2 linked regions of the Homo sapiens genome follow. The protein of the gene in region 2 purifies or fractionates together with the protein of the main gene of each other region. This does not show direct contact. Each region holds a gene or a part of one and is shown on either strand. Other genes may lie near its edges.

Region 1 (8,686 bases), on a different chromosome or scaffold from region 2:
ATGGAGCTAACAGGGTCGTATGGAAGATTACATAAGATATTGCACATTAAGCACTTAGCTCAGTAGCTAATAGCTAGTGAACCTAATACATGATGTATGTTATGATAAAAATAGTGATTGTAGAGGACATTTCACACTGATATGATACAAGTCTCTCTTTCATTAGTGTCTTGTTAAAGGTTTCTAATTTTCCCATTGACAAATTTTCTTTTTTTTTTGGAGATGGAGTCTCGCTCTGCCACCCAGGCTGGAGTGCGGTGGCAGGATCTTGGCTCACTGCAACCTCCGCCTCCCGGGTTCAAACAATTCTCCTGTCTCAGCCTCTACTACAGTTGGGACTACAGGTGCAGGACACCATGCCTGGCTAACTTTTGTATTTTTAGTAGAGACGGGGTTTCACCATATTGGTCAGGCTGGTCTCAAACTCCTGACCTCGGGTGATCCACCTGCCTTGGCCTCCCAAAGTCCTGGGATTACAGGTGTGAGCCACTGTGCCCAGCCAAATTTTCTTTTCTTTTCTTTTTTTTTTTTTTTGAGACGGAATCTCACTCTTTTTGCCCAGGCTGGCCCGCACTGGCCTGATCTCGGCTCACTGCAATCTCCGCCTCCGGGGTTCAAGAGATTCTCCTGCCTCAGCCTATCGAGTAGCTGGGATTACAGGTGCCTGCCACCACAGCCAGCTAATTTTTTTTTGTATTTTTAGTAGAGACAGGGTTTCACCATGTTTGGCCAGGCTGCTCTCCAACTCCTGACTTCAGGTGATCTACCTGCCTCAGCCTCCCAAAGTGGTGGGATTACAGGCGTGAGCCACCGCACCAGCCCCACATTAATTAACTTTAGTGTTGTGAGTGCATTCTGAATGATTTTTTATGGTATTGACAGGGAAACTAGTTTTATTGCTCGATATTATTTTCTTGCTGCTTTCCAAAATGCATAAACAATGATTTAGTTCACTGATAGATTTATACAGAAAATTTTACTTTGTATTCATTTTGATTTTTTTATTTGTTCCTTTTCATTCAGCCCCAGAAAAAATGCAATTAATCATGCCAAGGTATTTACAAAGCCTTATCTGACTAGCTCCATCATGTGTCTAGAATGAGTTTTACAATTTTAAAAGTTGCTTCCACTTCACTGCTACTATGGTCTTGAATAAGAATAAATATCTGGCTGGGCTCAGTGGCTGAAGTCTATAATCCCAGCACTTTAGGGGGCTGAGGTAGGCAGATCATTTGAGATCAGGACTTTGAGAGACCAGCCTGGTCAACATGGCGAAAACTCATCTCTACTAAAAATACAAAAATTAACCAGGTGTGGTGGTGGGCGCCTGTATTCCTAGCTACTCTGGAGGCTGAGGCAGGAGAATCACTTGAACTCAGGAGGCAAGAGGTTGCAGTGAGCCGAGATAGAGCCACTGCACTCCAGTGTAGGTGACAGAGCATCTCAAAAAAAGAAAGAAGGCCGGGCACGGTGGCTCACACCTGTAATCCCAGCACTTTGGGAGGCCGAGGTGGGTGGATCACGAGGTCAGCAGTTCAAGACAAGCCTGGCCAAGATGGTGAAACCCCATCTCTACTAAAAATACAAAAATTAGCTGGGTGTGGTGGCGGGTGCCTGTCATTCCAGCTACTTGGGAGGCTGAAGCAGAGAATAGCTTGAACCCGGAAGGCAGAGGTTGCAGTGAGCCGAGATTGCGCCACCGCACTCCAGCGTGGGTGACAGAGCAAGACTCCGTCTCAAAAAAAAAAAAAAAAGAAAGAATAAATATTTGGCAATATATTACTGAATCCTCTGAAAAACAGATGGAAATCAGAATTGGGAAAATGTTCCTTTTTTTTTTTGAGACAGAGTCTCGCTCTGTCTCCTAGGCTGGAGTGCAGTGGTGTGATCTTGGCTCATTGCAAGCTCCGCCTCCTGGGTTCACGCCATTCTCCTGCCTCAGCCTCCCGAGTAGCTGGGACTACAGTCACCAGCCACCATGCCTGGCTAATTTTTTGTATTTTTTTTTTTTTTTTAGTAGAGACGGGGTTTCACCATGTTACCCAGGATGGTCTTGATCTCCTGACCTCGTGATGCACCCGCCTCGGCCTCCCAAAGTGCTGGGATTACAGGCGTGAGCCACCACGCCCGGCAAAAACTGCTTTTATATATATATATGACTTTATAATAATCTCATGCTCATATATATTATAAAATGATATATAATCATATATAAATCATATGTACATATAAAATCTCATATATATTATAAAAAATGAACACAAGCATACATCTTCATCAAAGTCCTGCCTACTACAGTTAGATGTACCTCTTGAAACTTGGAAGAGATTATAGATTATTAGGGCAATAAAAGTAAACGCTAAAACATTTTTTTAAAAAATCAGAAATGATGATATAATGGACTAATAGTCTCAAGGTAGTTTTTGATAAATCCAAGACTGATCAATTGTCAGTCGACTGTCAATGGCTTATTAAGAGATTTTCAGTGTTTCATTGTATACCTGGGCTAATCTTGGGAAACAAACTATGCCTTTGTCTGTACATCTCAAAGCCCATGTCAATCTGACTACTAATGAGGGTTGACCATGGATGGGATGGTGTCTTAGGTAGTGTTTCTTGTGTTACTGGTAAGCTGACACTTCCGTCTTGGTAACCTCTGTTCATACACTCCTAAAATTCCTGATAGGTTTTGTTGTTGTTGTTGTTGTTGTTGTTGTTTTGAGACAGGGCTTCACTCTGTTGCCCAGGCTGGAGTGCAGTGGCACGATCAAAGCTCACTACAGCCTCGAATTCCCGGCCTCACATGATCTTCCTGCCTCAGCCTCCCAAGTAGCTGGGACTACAGGCATGCACTATAATGCCCAGCTAATTTTTATTATTATAATTTGTTGATAGAGACAGAGTCTTGCTATGATGCCCAGGCTGGTCTTGAATGCCTGGCTTCAGGCAATCCTACCATCTTGGCCTCCTAAAGCGCTAGCACTGTAGGCATGAGCCACTGAGCTTGGCTGACCTAATAATATTCTGAAGCTGATATTTCCCTATGAGATATGGAGTCAGACTTATCTGAGACTTTATCATGTCTGTGTGTACCTAGGCAATGCCTAGTACAGATGGCATGCTGTTTTCTTTCCAATTCATACTACATAACTATGTCAGATGAATTTCCTGCCCTAAACTATAGCTCCAAATATGGCAGTTCCTTGCACAAAACTACTGTCGCATTTCATTATGCTTGCTTCTTTCCTGTATTTATTCTTTCTAAAAATTTATCGTTTGTTTTCCCCATCCTAAAATTGTAAGCTCAGTGAGGGCAGGGACCAGTTGTAGCTCCAGTGTTTAGCTGTGCTGTCTTATAACACACATTCGATTATATTGTTGCCAAACTATGTAAATGATTACTACAAGAATTTGGACAATATGATTTTCTTTCAACTTTTAAAAGTGAGATATAATGAACGTACCATAAGACTCACCCATTTAAAAAGCATAACACAGTGGTTTTTAGTATATTCATAAACTTGTACAATCATCACCACTAATTCCAGAATATTTTCATCACTTCAATAGGAAAATGCATACCTGTTAGCAATTACTTCCATCTCCCCTCTCCCCCAGCCCCTAGCAAACCACTAACCTACTTTTTATCTCTATAGATTTCCCTATCCTCAACTTTCATTTAAATGGAATTATATAATATGTGGTCTTTTGCTCCTGGCTTAACACGATATTTTCGAGATTCATCCATGTTGTAACATTTTGTTTACCCTTTTAGACAAGATAAAGTTTAATACCCTTTCTAACTCTATGCTCAGATAGTCAAGTGAAGAGCTACAACCAAATTTCTTTTTCCTTTCTTCCTTTCTTCTCTCTCTCTCTCTTTCTTTCTTTCCTTCTTTTTTTTTTTGACAGAATCTTGCTCTGTCGCCCAGGCTGGAGTAGAGTGGAACGATCCCGGCTCCCTGCGACCTCCGCCTCCCCTGTTTAAACGATTCTCGTGCCTCAGCCTCCCGAGTAGCTGAGATTACAGGCATGTATAACCATGCCGGGCTAATTTTTGTATTTTTAGTAGAGAAGGGGTTTCACCGTGTTGGTGGCCAGGCTGGTCTCAAACTCCTGACCTCACGTGATCCACCAACCTCAGCCTCCCAAAGTGCTGGGATTGTAGGCGTGAGCCACAGCGCCCTGCCTCAACCAAATTTCAGAAAGTATCATAATATCATTATGCTTCATAGTTTCTCTATGCCCTGAAGTTTACCAATTTTATCTTCTACAGATTCCAGGAAGGCAGCCTGTTAAGACTCACCAAATTTACTTCCTCAGCCTCCAGAACAATAAAATCAAACTCCCTACCTTGATTTTAAGATTCTGCTTCCCCCCACCCCGCCCCACCCCAATCTTCTCCTTGGATATTCGACAGTCTGGAATAATGCATTTTTACAGTTCTGATTGTTTTCAGCAGATGTGTTGGCTGAGGTTGGATGGGGTTTCTTCCCACCTATCTCTCCTCTCTCCTTCCCTCTGCCCACTGCACGTGCAACAACTTTTCTGCCATCAAAACGTGCAAAAAAGAAACAAGAAAGAAAGGAAAGAGAAAGAAAAGAAAAACAGAAAAAAGAAAAGAAAAAGCAGCCGGAAGTCTTCCTTTGTTTTCCAAGGAAATTCAGGTAAAAGGAGGGGTGGGGAAATGATATTTTTGACTTTGCTCACAATCCAGACGTAGGAAAGAAAAAGGATTTCCTTTGGGCTGCTGCCACGACTCTGATGTTTTATGCTGATAAAATATTTCCTTCTTAAAAAAAAGTTCTGGGAAAATCATGCCCCTTCAACTTGGAAGCGAAACCCACCCTAACTTTCGTCTTAAAACGCAGCGAAGTGAAAGGTTTGCTCCTCTTTCACGAGGGTTTTGTTCCTTACAGTTCGGGTCTTGCTACCAGGAGCGAGCTGGGTCCGCAGCGTTCTTCGGTGGCTGGCGCGGGAGGAGGACTACAGGATCCAGAGATCTTTGGAAACTCCAGCAGCTCCAAGCTTGTTGGCTACTACGGTTTCCCTGAGGAGTGACGCTACGAAAACAAACCCTGATTGGTCAGGCCTGAGCTGAGTTCTCCATTTATGGACAGATTGCCCGGCCCGAGCCGAGACTCAGCCAGAGGAGTACGGATTAAGTGGCCGAAGAAAGAGGAGTGAGGCAGGGGAGCGAGGCGGACGCTCCGAGCGCATCGGACTCACCTGGGCCGGCGGCGACCGGCGAGTACGAGTGGACTCTTGCCCTCCGCAGCATGCGCCCCGCCTGCTAAGTCGCCGCCGTCTCGCCCTCACCTAGCACCGCCAATCCCGCCTGGATGGAGTCCCCTCTGGGTTCCCATTGGCTCCTGTGAGTGCTTGGGTGTCGGGAGCCTGTTTTTGGCGAGGGGAACCAACTTTTGAAGTTCGCCCAGAAGACTGCGTTCCAGCCCCAGTTCCCCGGCAGCGGGACCCGGCGAAGACGCGACCGCGGCGCGAGTCACCATGGTGAGTTGGCCGCGCCGCGTCCTAGGACGCCGGACCCGGGGACGGGGCAGGAAACCCCGGCGTGGTGCACCCACCTTGGGCGCGCTGCCGGGGCCAGGGGTGGAGAAGGTGGACGCGGGAGCCGGCACGTCGCGAGCTCTGATTTCCTGCCGCTTTCCGTAAACCCGGGCCGGGGGAGAGCGAGCGAGGGGCCAAGGAAAACTTTATTCCAAGTCGGTTTCTGCGTCGCGAAACTTTCTGTGGCCGGGTTGCTATGGCTGCCAGCTGTCGGAAGCCAGGGTGTGGGCGCATCGGCTGCGAGGGGCACGGCGCGGGAGGGGGTCCCCTCCTCCTGCTGGGACGTGGGGGGCGCAGCCGGCAGGGGAGGTGCTCGGAGACTCGCGCCGCAGCCGCTGGCGGCGTCCCCTGCCCTCCCCGCGGCCGTGCCCGCCCCGCCCCGGGCACCCTCGCGCCGACTCCCTCTCCTCCCCGCCGCCGCTCCGCTGCCCGGCAGCGCCCGCAGCTGTCCCGCCTGGCAGCGGCACGCGGGCGGGGGCGGTCCCTGGCCCGCCTTGGCGAGGGGCGGCGCGGGCCGCACAAAGGCAGGCGGGGGCGCCAGGTAGGGCGAGCACCTGGCGGCCGGCGGGCTGTCAAGAGCCAGGGAGACTCGGGCGCGGGCGGCAACCACGCCGCCCCGGACCTGTGCCGGGCGCCGGCCCCGAGGGTCTCCGCGCCCCGGACGCCAAGTAAACACCTCCTGAAGAGGACCCCACCCCTTCCCAAGCGCGAGGGGATCGGGGCTTTTCGGGGATCCAGGGGACGCTTCGCACGGGAAGACGCCCTCGCGAGTTTCGAGTTTGTTGCTGTTTTCCCTTTGGCACTTTGGGAATGTGTGGAAGGGGCCGCCTCTTTGACTTGTGACTTTTCTGCTATTCCAACTCCCCAGTCCAGCTACACTCCCCTCCCTCCCTGTATAACCTTAGCCACCTCCCTTGGGCTTTGGCGTGGTGTACTTTTCTTTGCGGGGCACGAAAGCAAGGACTCTATTTTGAAGAGATCGGCAGTTCATCAAAAAAAAAAAAATCTATTACAAGGCTTCATAGTTTCCACACTTGCTTCTTTTCAAGTAGTCCTGCTTAGGTGGATTATCTCGTCCTCTTCTGGTTTGCTGTTGTTTTCTAATGGCTGTGGAAGAGAAGCCAAGTCAAAATGATAACCAGCACAACACTAATTAAAAAATCGATATCCCGGTGAGCAGCCTGAGGGAAGTGCAGCAGAGGCCCATCGAAACCTGCACACAAAGCTCAGAAGCCCCCTTGCCCCGTGCTGTTTATTCCAAAGAATGATTACAAACAAACATCAACGAGAAACCTTTCAAGGCATCCTCGGCCAAAGCCTTTTCTTTTTACATAGTCCAAAATTAAGTCACTTTTGCCCCATCTAAGAGAACACTTTGTCTATACATTTCCTCTTCTAGTTTTAAGGTTTAAGAAGTCAGTCTACTCTACGTTACTTTTGGACCCCTTCCCTCACCCCAGCAGAGAACCATTCCCATTGGGCATGTGTTTGGGTGAAGCTACCTCACTGGGCACCTGGTCCCTTGAAGCAGTGTGATAGTCCTGGTACTTGAGAATTGCTGTAATCATTTTCCGTGGGTCAATATTTCTTAAAAAAATCAATGTGTTTATGTCAAGAACTTAAAGAATCTTACTGAATTTAAGTACTTGAGTGGTACCTTGAGGAAATTAACTTCCCCTCAGTTAAACTCATTTTTCATGCTGAATGGACTGAAATATACTCTAGGTTGCCTTTTCCGAAACCTGTGATACCATGCTTAATTCAGCCCCATTGCAGATGAAGTAGAGGGTTGGTCAAATGCATGCGAAGAAGGCATGCTGTAGGGAAGAGGTGGTTCTATCTGAGGACAGTGTGTGACTTCCCTATTGATGGGCTCCCTGCCATCAGCACAGATGGGCATGTTGTGTGCCCCCAGGCGACTATCTGTGCATCAGATATGGTTGCTGAAGTCACAATTCACTGATGGAAAAGTTGAAACAGCTGGCTGTCCTGAAACAGGAGATGTGCCATTGATAGATCTACTGGATCCAGAGTGATTTGGCCAAAGTTAATCATTTCTTTCCTGACTTGAAAAATTGTTCATTATGTATGTGAAGTTGCCTTAGAATAGAGCATCATCTTAAATAATCAGAAACCCAAGTTACAATATTTAATGTTTATGTCAGACTCTGTCAAGCCAAATGATACTTCATTTTGTGTTCCACATCTGCCCAGGCCTGCCCAAGTTGTATCCCTTCAGCTGCTTAGAACAGGAAGGGAAAGGACATTACCTTCTTTGGGTGTGGCTGAAGATTAGCATGGAGGCTAAAATTCATCAGAAGGCCCTTGGCGGCCAGGCGCAGTGGCTCACGCCTGTAATCCCAGCACTTTGGGAGGCTGAGGCAGGAGGAATACTTGAGCCCAGGAGTTCAAGACCATCCTGGGTAACATAGTGAGACCCTGTTTCAGTTAAAAAATATTAAGAAGAAGAAGAAGAAAAAGAAGGCCCTTGGCTGGGCTATAGGGAGAACACCTATACCGTGGACTTCTTCTGTGTGAGTGTGTGTGTGTGCGTGTGTCTTTTAGGAAGTCTGGTAGCATAGTAGGAGGGCTCTCCATCTGTACCTGAGGCCCTACTAAGACTCATTCAGTTGTGACTCATAAGGAAAATAGCCATTTTCATTTTCTGACTCATGAACACAGTGTACAGCTTGTAGTTCACCTTCTATCTTCCTCCTGAAAACTCACTTTGGGACACTTTTCTATCTTGAGAAAACTAGGAACACTACCAGGCAATAGTTACTTGTGTCTTTTTCCTAAGGAGACTTGAAGAAGTTAAAAAAAACCCTGCACATCTTTATAATTTAGTGGAGGTTGTTTAGCAGAGTACAAAAAAATCTCTGTTGACTTTAACCGTAATACCCATCTAAGGCTTCCTTCGTAGAATCTGGGCTTATCATCATCTGCAAAGGAAGTTCTGCTTTTGTGGCCATGACCAGTTTGGACTCTCTGATAGACTGAAACCCATGGCTGTAGGTCCGCTATGTGCTTTGGATCCAGAAATTGTGATTGATTTTTATGCAAGGTTTCTGTGCATTAAATATACAGAAATATTTGAGCAAATCTGAATTGACCATCA
Region 2 (8,189 bases):
ATTTTCCTTTGGCACTGCTATTTAATTTGTTGAGATCTTCATTTCTTATTGTTGTTGAGTTTATTTCTTTTGTTATAGAGAGAGGTAGAAAAGCGGTGGGTGATAAATTTTTGTCCAGGAAGAAATACATCTAAAAATTCAATTTGTCATTATTATTGATTACAACAGAAAAAGTATCAATGGAATCACTAACTTTGGCAAATGTTGGCTTTCTCTTGAATCTAATAGTTTGCATTAAACTTAAAATGCAAATCATAAAAGAAGACCTTGTGAAAAGCTAAGCTAGAGGAGCAAATTCTGATCTTTCCTTCTGTAAGATTAGACAGTGGTTTTGTTTTTATATTACTGCTGTTTTCCAGTAACCTTTCTAAGCCTGAGAGAGGAAAGGAAGTGTCCAGTCTTTCAAGCGAGAGGGACCCATGCAGTGAGGCTGACTGACCACATTCTACCCACTGTTCTACAGAGCTTCCAGGAACAAGGGTTTTGGCCGGTATTCTAAAGGATTCAAAAAGAATAGCCAATGCTTTTCCTTTCTCATTTTTTGTAAATCTGGCTCCCGTAGGTGAAACACATTTTCAGCAGCATAGAAACATATAACAAACAAAATGTAATACCTTTGTGGCCCCCGTGGCAAGCCCAGTATAAGGCAGTGCTTCCAGCTTTGTCTAAGCCATTAACACCCACTCTGTTGTCCAAACACTCTCTCAACCAGCTCAAGTTGCCTGAAAGAATTTTACATTTACAAGAACACAAGAAAAAAAGCTTTCACTTTTTATTTTGCTTTTAAATCAATGTCATTCTGCATAAATTTCCATTTGCAATGGATTAATCAGCAAGTATTAAATTAAGACCTCCCCATTAATGCATTTATTATGGTACATTTTGACTTCCAGCTTATTAATGGAAAGTATTAACATCAATGTTTCTAATGATAAGTTAATGGGAATAGTTGCCCAAATGGGTATACTTAAGGTATTTCTATTCTGTTAAAAAATATATAGGGGTGTGTGTGTGTGTGTGTGTGTGTGTGTGTGTGTGTGTGTATGTGTGTGTATGTGTATATATTATTTTTTTCTTTGTGAAATTCTGGAAATTGAGGAAAAAACAATCAAACCTAAGAACAAGCAGATACTATTCATATTCATATTTAAAATGCATCTTCAGTTCCTATAAGAAAGGCTAAATAACCTACTCAAAGCTGCTGCTCTTATATGCTAAACTATAACTATTAATTTAAAATCCTCAGGCTAATGTCCCAAGTATCTAATTCACAAAGAATTTTTTAAATGTCAGTTTAGTCCTTTTACTTTTTCACAATCCTAACCAATAATTTCCTTGTGTACATTCAGATTTCCAAAAAAATCTAAAAATGGAATGAAATGGAGCTCATTGAGGCTTTACAAAAACTCCCCATTATCTACAGCAGGGTTTCTCAGCAGCAGCCCCATTGGCATTTGGGGTTGGATTTATTGTGGGGGTGCTCCTGTGTGCTGTAGGATGTGTGGCAACAACGCCTGCCTCTCCCCAAAAGATGCCAGTAACATCCCTCCAGTCATGACAGTCAACATGTCTCCAGATATTGCCAAATACCCTCGGGGTTTGTGAAAGAGGAATCACCCCTAGCTGAGGACTACTGATCTACAGAATAAAGCCCAAGACAAGGCTGATCGTTGTTTGGTCAAGGATCTTCCCCAGGTTCATCCCTGTTAGTCATGCCCTCCCTGGCCAAATGCTCACCACACCAACGCTCTCCTAAATGCTGTACCCACCAGACCCTTCCATTCTCTTGCCCTCCAGTTACTCACCTGGGCCTCTACGGCCTGTCAAACACATTTCAATTGCTGTACTTATCATACCATATTTTAATGATCTGTTACATCTCTCTCTCCCCTGCCAGATGTTGTGCTTTGGAAGTCACAGACCATGTCTTTCGACTTGCATCTCCCCACAACAGTGTTTCTTGACTGACATTTTAAAACTAAAATCACACTTCTCTAGGGTAGTAGATGTTGGGACAGACTGTAAGGCAGGGATTTAACTGAGAAGGTGCAAAGGGAACTTTCTAGGATGGCAGAAATGTTCTAGATCTTGATCTGGGTGTTGGTTACGTGGGTGTATGCACTTGTCAAAGCTAATTGAAATCCGTGCCTTTTACTGTACTGCATACCTCAGTCAAAAAGAATCACACCTACCTCTTTTTGCTGCTTCATGCAATGGATTGTCAATGGATTCTGCCTGCTCAGCCACTAGATTGAAAATAAAAAGTGTTAACCCAATGTGGAATTGCCACACAAATGATTTACTGAAGCCACTCATTCACCACAGTCCCCCAGCTTCAGGAGTACCAGGGCATTCAACACAGTTTCCTTTACTTAATGTGGATAAAAAGTAACAGAAAATCAAATGGATAGTTCTTGCATTAAATGAAGCTGAATTATGTGTTTAGGGAAACCAAGCCAAGCAATAAGGCAATAACATAGTAATTAACTGGAAGTATAAACAAAAACAAACAAACCCGCATACCTGAGTTAAATGCACACTTGATATTACTCAAGTATTTAATAAACAAAGTCACAAAAATGCAAAAGGAAGCATTTGATGTTCATTTTTACATTTTGTAGATCACTCTGCTTTAAAGATACCTGAAAATAATTTTGGTTCTCTTGTGTGTATTTATGTAGGATCGGATGAGGGGAGTATTTTGCTTCCTGTATTCAGAAAGAACAATCAGCATAGCTACCTGCCTCTTAAAGAAGGCATGTTCGCTGCTGTCCTAGAATCAGTAGGAAGTGTTATTAGGAAATGGAAGAAAGAGGATTAAAACTCAGGAGCCTTGTTTATCAATTCTGTGCTCTTTTGACTTGATTCTGCTGACAACTAAACAAGTGTTTTATCTGTTTGTCCCACTTCCAGCTTGAAGCAGCTTCATGGCGGGAGCCGTGTCTCTCATCTCTCAAAGTCTCCAAACTGCCATGATAAGCATTTAATGAACATCACTGCCCCAAACATGAATGAACAAGGCCGGGTTACTCCATCACAAAAGAAACGGCTAGTCTAAGAAACTATCTGCAAGATTGAGTTTATCAGCATTAAAAAAAATTGTTTTAAGGGTTGAAGAAAGTAAAACCATAAGTGTTTCCTTGGAAACCTTGGGTTAAGAATGCTAAAATGCATTCTCTTAGGCCACAGAGTCAGGCTCAAGCACATCTGGTGTTCATGGCCAGTTTATTAACAGAAGGCTCATGGAATAGAAAATGTCCTAGACTGACAATGACTCCATTGCTTTCTCAGCCACAGTAGCAAGCAGAAAAGCATCAAGAACCAAAAAATTCCAAGTGAACGAAGCTAAAGTAAAACCACTCAGCAACACTTACCATAGTTGCTTGGAATTAGTCCAGTCCTGCCTTTGGAGGTGCCTTTCCACCAATTGGTATCGCTCTGGTAAAAGAAGAGTTAAATTAAGTGGTATGAAATCCAGACTGCATTCATTCACTTTTCAAATTATCTAGCTCCTAGGGAGTACCTGTTCTACAAAATGTCCATCAACCCTACCCACACTATCAAGCTTCCTCACGCCCTAGCTGTGGGTGTCCGTCTCCCTTACCACTCAGTTACAAATAAACACGCATCTGCCTGCAACAAATGGAATACGTTTCATGACAGAGTCTCAACAACCAAACAAATAAGAGATGACATGAAACAGAAGAAAACAAATTACGCTAGTTTAGACTAGCTATATGATTTTTTGTCCACAGTTTCATTTCTCTTAGCTTTGAGATAATTTTTTTTATGGGGGAGGAAGTTCTAAAGATCTCTTTATATTATCTTCATTTTGGGGGTAACTTGTTATTATAGAAAAATTTAAACTTACAAAAAAGTAGAAAGAACAATGTAATGACCATATATATACCCATTTCCCAACTGCACAAATCATTTATTAATGACCAATATTGTTTCATATATGCCCCCATGACGTCCCTCCCCTCCTGGATTATTTTAAAATAAATTCTAGACATCATATTATTTCATTTGTAAATATTTCAGTACGTATCTCTGAAAGACACATACTTTTTGAAAGGCAATTATAATGCCATTATCACAGCTTAAAAGTTTTTTCCAACAATAATTCCTTAATATCATCAAATATCTAGGTCGATACTCAAATTTCCCAACTGCCCCATAATTTGGGACTCAAATAAGGGCTATACAATATGATTGATTTGTCTTTAAGTATCTTTTAATCTATAGGTTGTCTCTCCATTCTTTTTTATCTCTTACAATGTATTTGTTGAAGAATCCAGTTGGTTTGTTCTGTAGTGTCAACCTCTATGGATTTTGCCTGTTGTATCCCTGTGTTATCATTAAGCATGTTCCTCTGTTCCCTGTATTGCCTATAAATTGGTCATCAGTTCTAGAGGTTTAATTAGATTCAGCTCCAATTTTTTTTGGCAAGGCTATTTCCTAGGCAGTATTGATTTCTTCCATTAGGAAATGCAAACTATCTAGTCGGCTTCTTTTTGTAATGTTAGTAGCCCTTGATGATCATTGTCTAGATCCACTATTTCCTAGAGGCTGCAAGATGGTGACATTCTAATTCTATCATTCCTTCTTCATTGAAATAACCTGAATACCTCTTTAAACAAAAACTTCCTCATCAGCTCTCAGATTGCCCAGGTAAGAAATTCATAAAGAAAACACAGAATAAATGGTGATTCTTTCCCTTAACAGTTGTCAGAATAAAAACCTGATTTCCTAGCATTCTCTCATGCTGACCAATGAGATTTCCTCAGAAGTAACATTAGAAACTCATAAATTTAAATGTATTTAATGGGTTTCAATTCTTGGAAGTTGTTGCCCTAATTGATGCTCAAATTGTCCTATCTTTGGCCAGTGGGAGTCTCTTCAAGTTCGTTCCCAAGTCCTTTCAGTGTGACCCTACTGTCTTTAGGAGCTTCCATGTTTTCTAATAAGAGGATGTTCTGGGTTTATCTTGTACCTCTGCTGCCCCTGACTTGGTACCAGCCATTTCTCAAAGAAGCCTGTACATTTCAATGGAAAATAACATATTATTATTGGGTTGGTCATTTTTCCTAGGCCCTTTCAAAGAACACAGCAGGGAATATTTTTGTTTTATTTTAGATAAAATACAATGTGATCCTTGCAATTCAGATGAAGGAATACAGAGTTTTTCTTAAACTGTCATTAATCTTACATCTGTGTATCCTTTTTGCTATGCTGAAAATCCGTTAGCAACATCACCGACCTAATTACTCATTTGCTCTAAACCACAATACACATGCAACAATCTCAGAATTAGCAATACCTACATTTCCCTAACAAGGGCATGATTTAAAACAATTTACCCTTTTTTGGCCATTTCTTTTTGTCCATATATATATATGGACAAAATATATATATATATATATATATATATGGACAAAATATATATATATATATATATATGGACAAAATATATATATATATATATGGACAAAATATATATATATATATATGGACAAAATATATATATATATATATGGACAAAATATATATATATATGGACAAAATATATATATATATGGACAAAATATATATATATATGGACAAAATATATATATATATATATATATATATATATATATATATATATATGTCTTTCATACATATCCATATTCTACTATGGATGTTCAGTCAAATTGCTGAGTTTTAAACTTGGAATATTTCCTCTCTGTGTGGTTAGGCCAATTACCAGGGTACAATTAAGTTCATTTGATTCATTCTGCTTTTAATTTTTAGGGATTGCTTTTTACTTCAATTTTTAACCATGTCAAGGTTTACATCAGTTCAAAGTCAAATCCACAAAACAAGGTATAATTTTCTAAAAAGTCTATCTTCCATCTATGTTCATTATACCCTATTTCTCTCCTTCCACCTAGAGAAAGGATCTTTACTCTTCATAGAATAAAACTAAATTTTACTTTGCAACTCATCTTTCAACTTTTTATCTGAAATTGAGAAAAACAAGTGTCTGCATGTATGTGTGTGTACACATACACTCTCACCCTTTCCTAGAAAACTGAGGATATATTATCTACATTTTCTCACTTTGCTTTTTTTTTCACTTAAATTACTTCATAATAGCATATAGAGATATTCCCCATTTCTTTCTACAGCTGCATAATATTCTGTTTGTGGCTAGACCAAAGCTTATTCAACTCTTTCCCTATTGATGGAAATAAGGGCTATTTTCAATCTTATGCTACTATCAATTGTGCTAAAATGAACAGACTTGTACATATGTATTTCTATGTACATATATATTTAAATAACTTACAATGTTATAGCTACATAAAACAGTCTTTATATGTGGTATTACAAGATGTTATCTGGACTTACCATGTCAGTAATGTAGATAATATCACCTTCCTCAAAGTATAATTCATCTGGCTAGAAGAAAAAAAAAAGTTTGACTCCATGTGATTTTTCATGAATTAGAATATGATTATATAGATTCAAAATTCTATCATATTCTAATAAGCAATGTGGTTTTATACACTTAAATCAGCACATAAGCCATATAATAAAACACTACTGAAAAATTAACACATGAATAGACGGCTAGATTTTTTTCCCATGATGAACTTCAAAGAATTACATATATAAAGATTCTCCACACACATCTTGCATTCTTCTACAACCAAAGCAAGACATTTGTATATCAAAATAGAGTATTAATAAAACTTCTTCCTTGTAGAAATTCTAAAAGGTGGTATACATTTTTTCATAAAAATATAAATGTCTAGAATTAGAGTCATGAAAAACAGCCAGAAGCTTGATTTTCTCTTAAACAAGGCCTCAATCCTTGAACACTTTAAGATCAACATCTGCTATCTGCTCATTTTAAGAAAATCATTATCCTAGCTCTTCATGTTCAGGGAGAATGAACATTTTCTGTATGAGAAAAGTTAATATGTAATTCAACCATTAATAAGGCTAAAGAGCTAAAAGATATGAAGCAGTAACTCAGCCAGTCCAGAAACCCCAAGCAGCTCTAAGGAGTTGGCTAATTACACAGACCATATGTGCTCTGGCCTGTACCAACCAAATGTTCTAAAAACTTTCTGAGGCCAGGTGCGGTGGCTCATGCCTGTAATCCCAGCACTTTGGGAGACCAAGGCAGGTGGTTCACAAGGCCAGCAGTTCAAGACCAGCCTGGCCAAGATGGTGAAACCCCATCTCTACTAAAAATACAAAAATTAGCTGGGCATGGTGGGGGATGCCTGTAATCATAGCTACTCGGGAGGCTGAGGCAGAGAATTTCTTGAACCCGGGAGGCAGAGGTTGCGGTGAGCTGAGATCACGCCACTGCACTCCAGCCTGGGTGACAGAGCGAGACTCCGTCTCAAAAAACAAAACAAAACAAACAAACAAACAAAAACAACCAAAAAACACTTTCTGAATAAAGATACACATTTTAAACATCTTTTGACCATCAGTAGATAACACTTACCATGACTTTGTAAGTAAGTAGGGTGATGCCTACCGAGAGCAAATTTCAGGTGTTAGGAAATGTTTACATCATCATGGTGGATGAAAAATGTAGGACACAAATTTCACATGTGATAAGAACACAACTATGCATTAAATAGACACAAAAATTTCCAAATTCTGTCATGAGCATGTGTTGCTTTCATATTTCAGGTGGGAAAAATACTTTTAAAAGAAAGGCTTTGATATTTCTGATTATAATTACTATTCCATATAAATCAAAATTATGCTAGTGAAACAAATTACTTCATCCAGCCAGGCGTGGTAGCTCATGCCTGCAATTCCTGCACTTTGGGAGGCTGAGGCGGGCAGATCACTTGAGGACAGGCGTTCGAGACCAGCCTGGCCAACATGGTGAAACCCCATCTCTACTAAAAACACACACAAAAAATGTGCCAGGTGTGGTGGTGCACACTTATAATCCCAGCTATTCGGGAGGCTGAGACTTGAGAATCACTTGAACCTGGGAGGCAGAGGTTGCAGTGAGCCAAGATTACGCCATGGCACTCCAGCCTGAGTGACAGAGCAAGACTCTGTCTCAAAAAATTTTTTTAAAAAATGAAATTAAAAATAAAATATTTCATCCATTCATTTTTCCATTTGTTTACCTCCTCTCAGTAGCAGACTAGAGCAGTAAATAT

Evidence for each region.
Region 1: the proteins of OSTF1 (region 2) and MYO1E purify together in Homo sapiens (co-immunoprecipitation; 4 studies listed by BioGRID and IntAct, with this or other methods). This does not show direct contact.

What each region holds. Positions count from the first base shown.
Region 1 is NC_000015.10:59,369,323-59,378,008, reverse strand, and holds the start of MYO1E (unconventional myosin-Ie), read left to right. Parts: upstream 1-5,137; 5' UTR 5,138-5,508; coding exon 5,509-5,511; intron 5,512-8,686. UniProt on the Homo sapiens protein: Actin-based motor molecule with ATPase activity. Unconventional myosins serve in intracellular movements. Their highly divergent tails bind to membranous compartments, which are then moved relative to actin filaments.
Region 2 is NC_000009.12:75,125,827-75,134,015, reverse strand, and holds part of OSTF1 (osteoclast-stimulating factor 1), read right to left. Parts: intron 7,540-8,189; exon of another isoform or gene 7,514-7,539; coding exon of another isoform or gene 7,511-7,513; intron 6,448-7,510; coding exon 6,397-6,447; intron 3,439-6,396; coding exon 3,375-3,438; intron 2,247-3,374; coding exon 2,193-2,246; intron 723-2,192; coding exon 615-722; intron 1-614.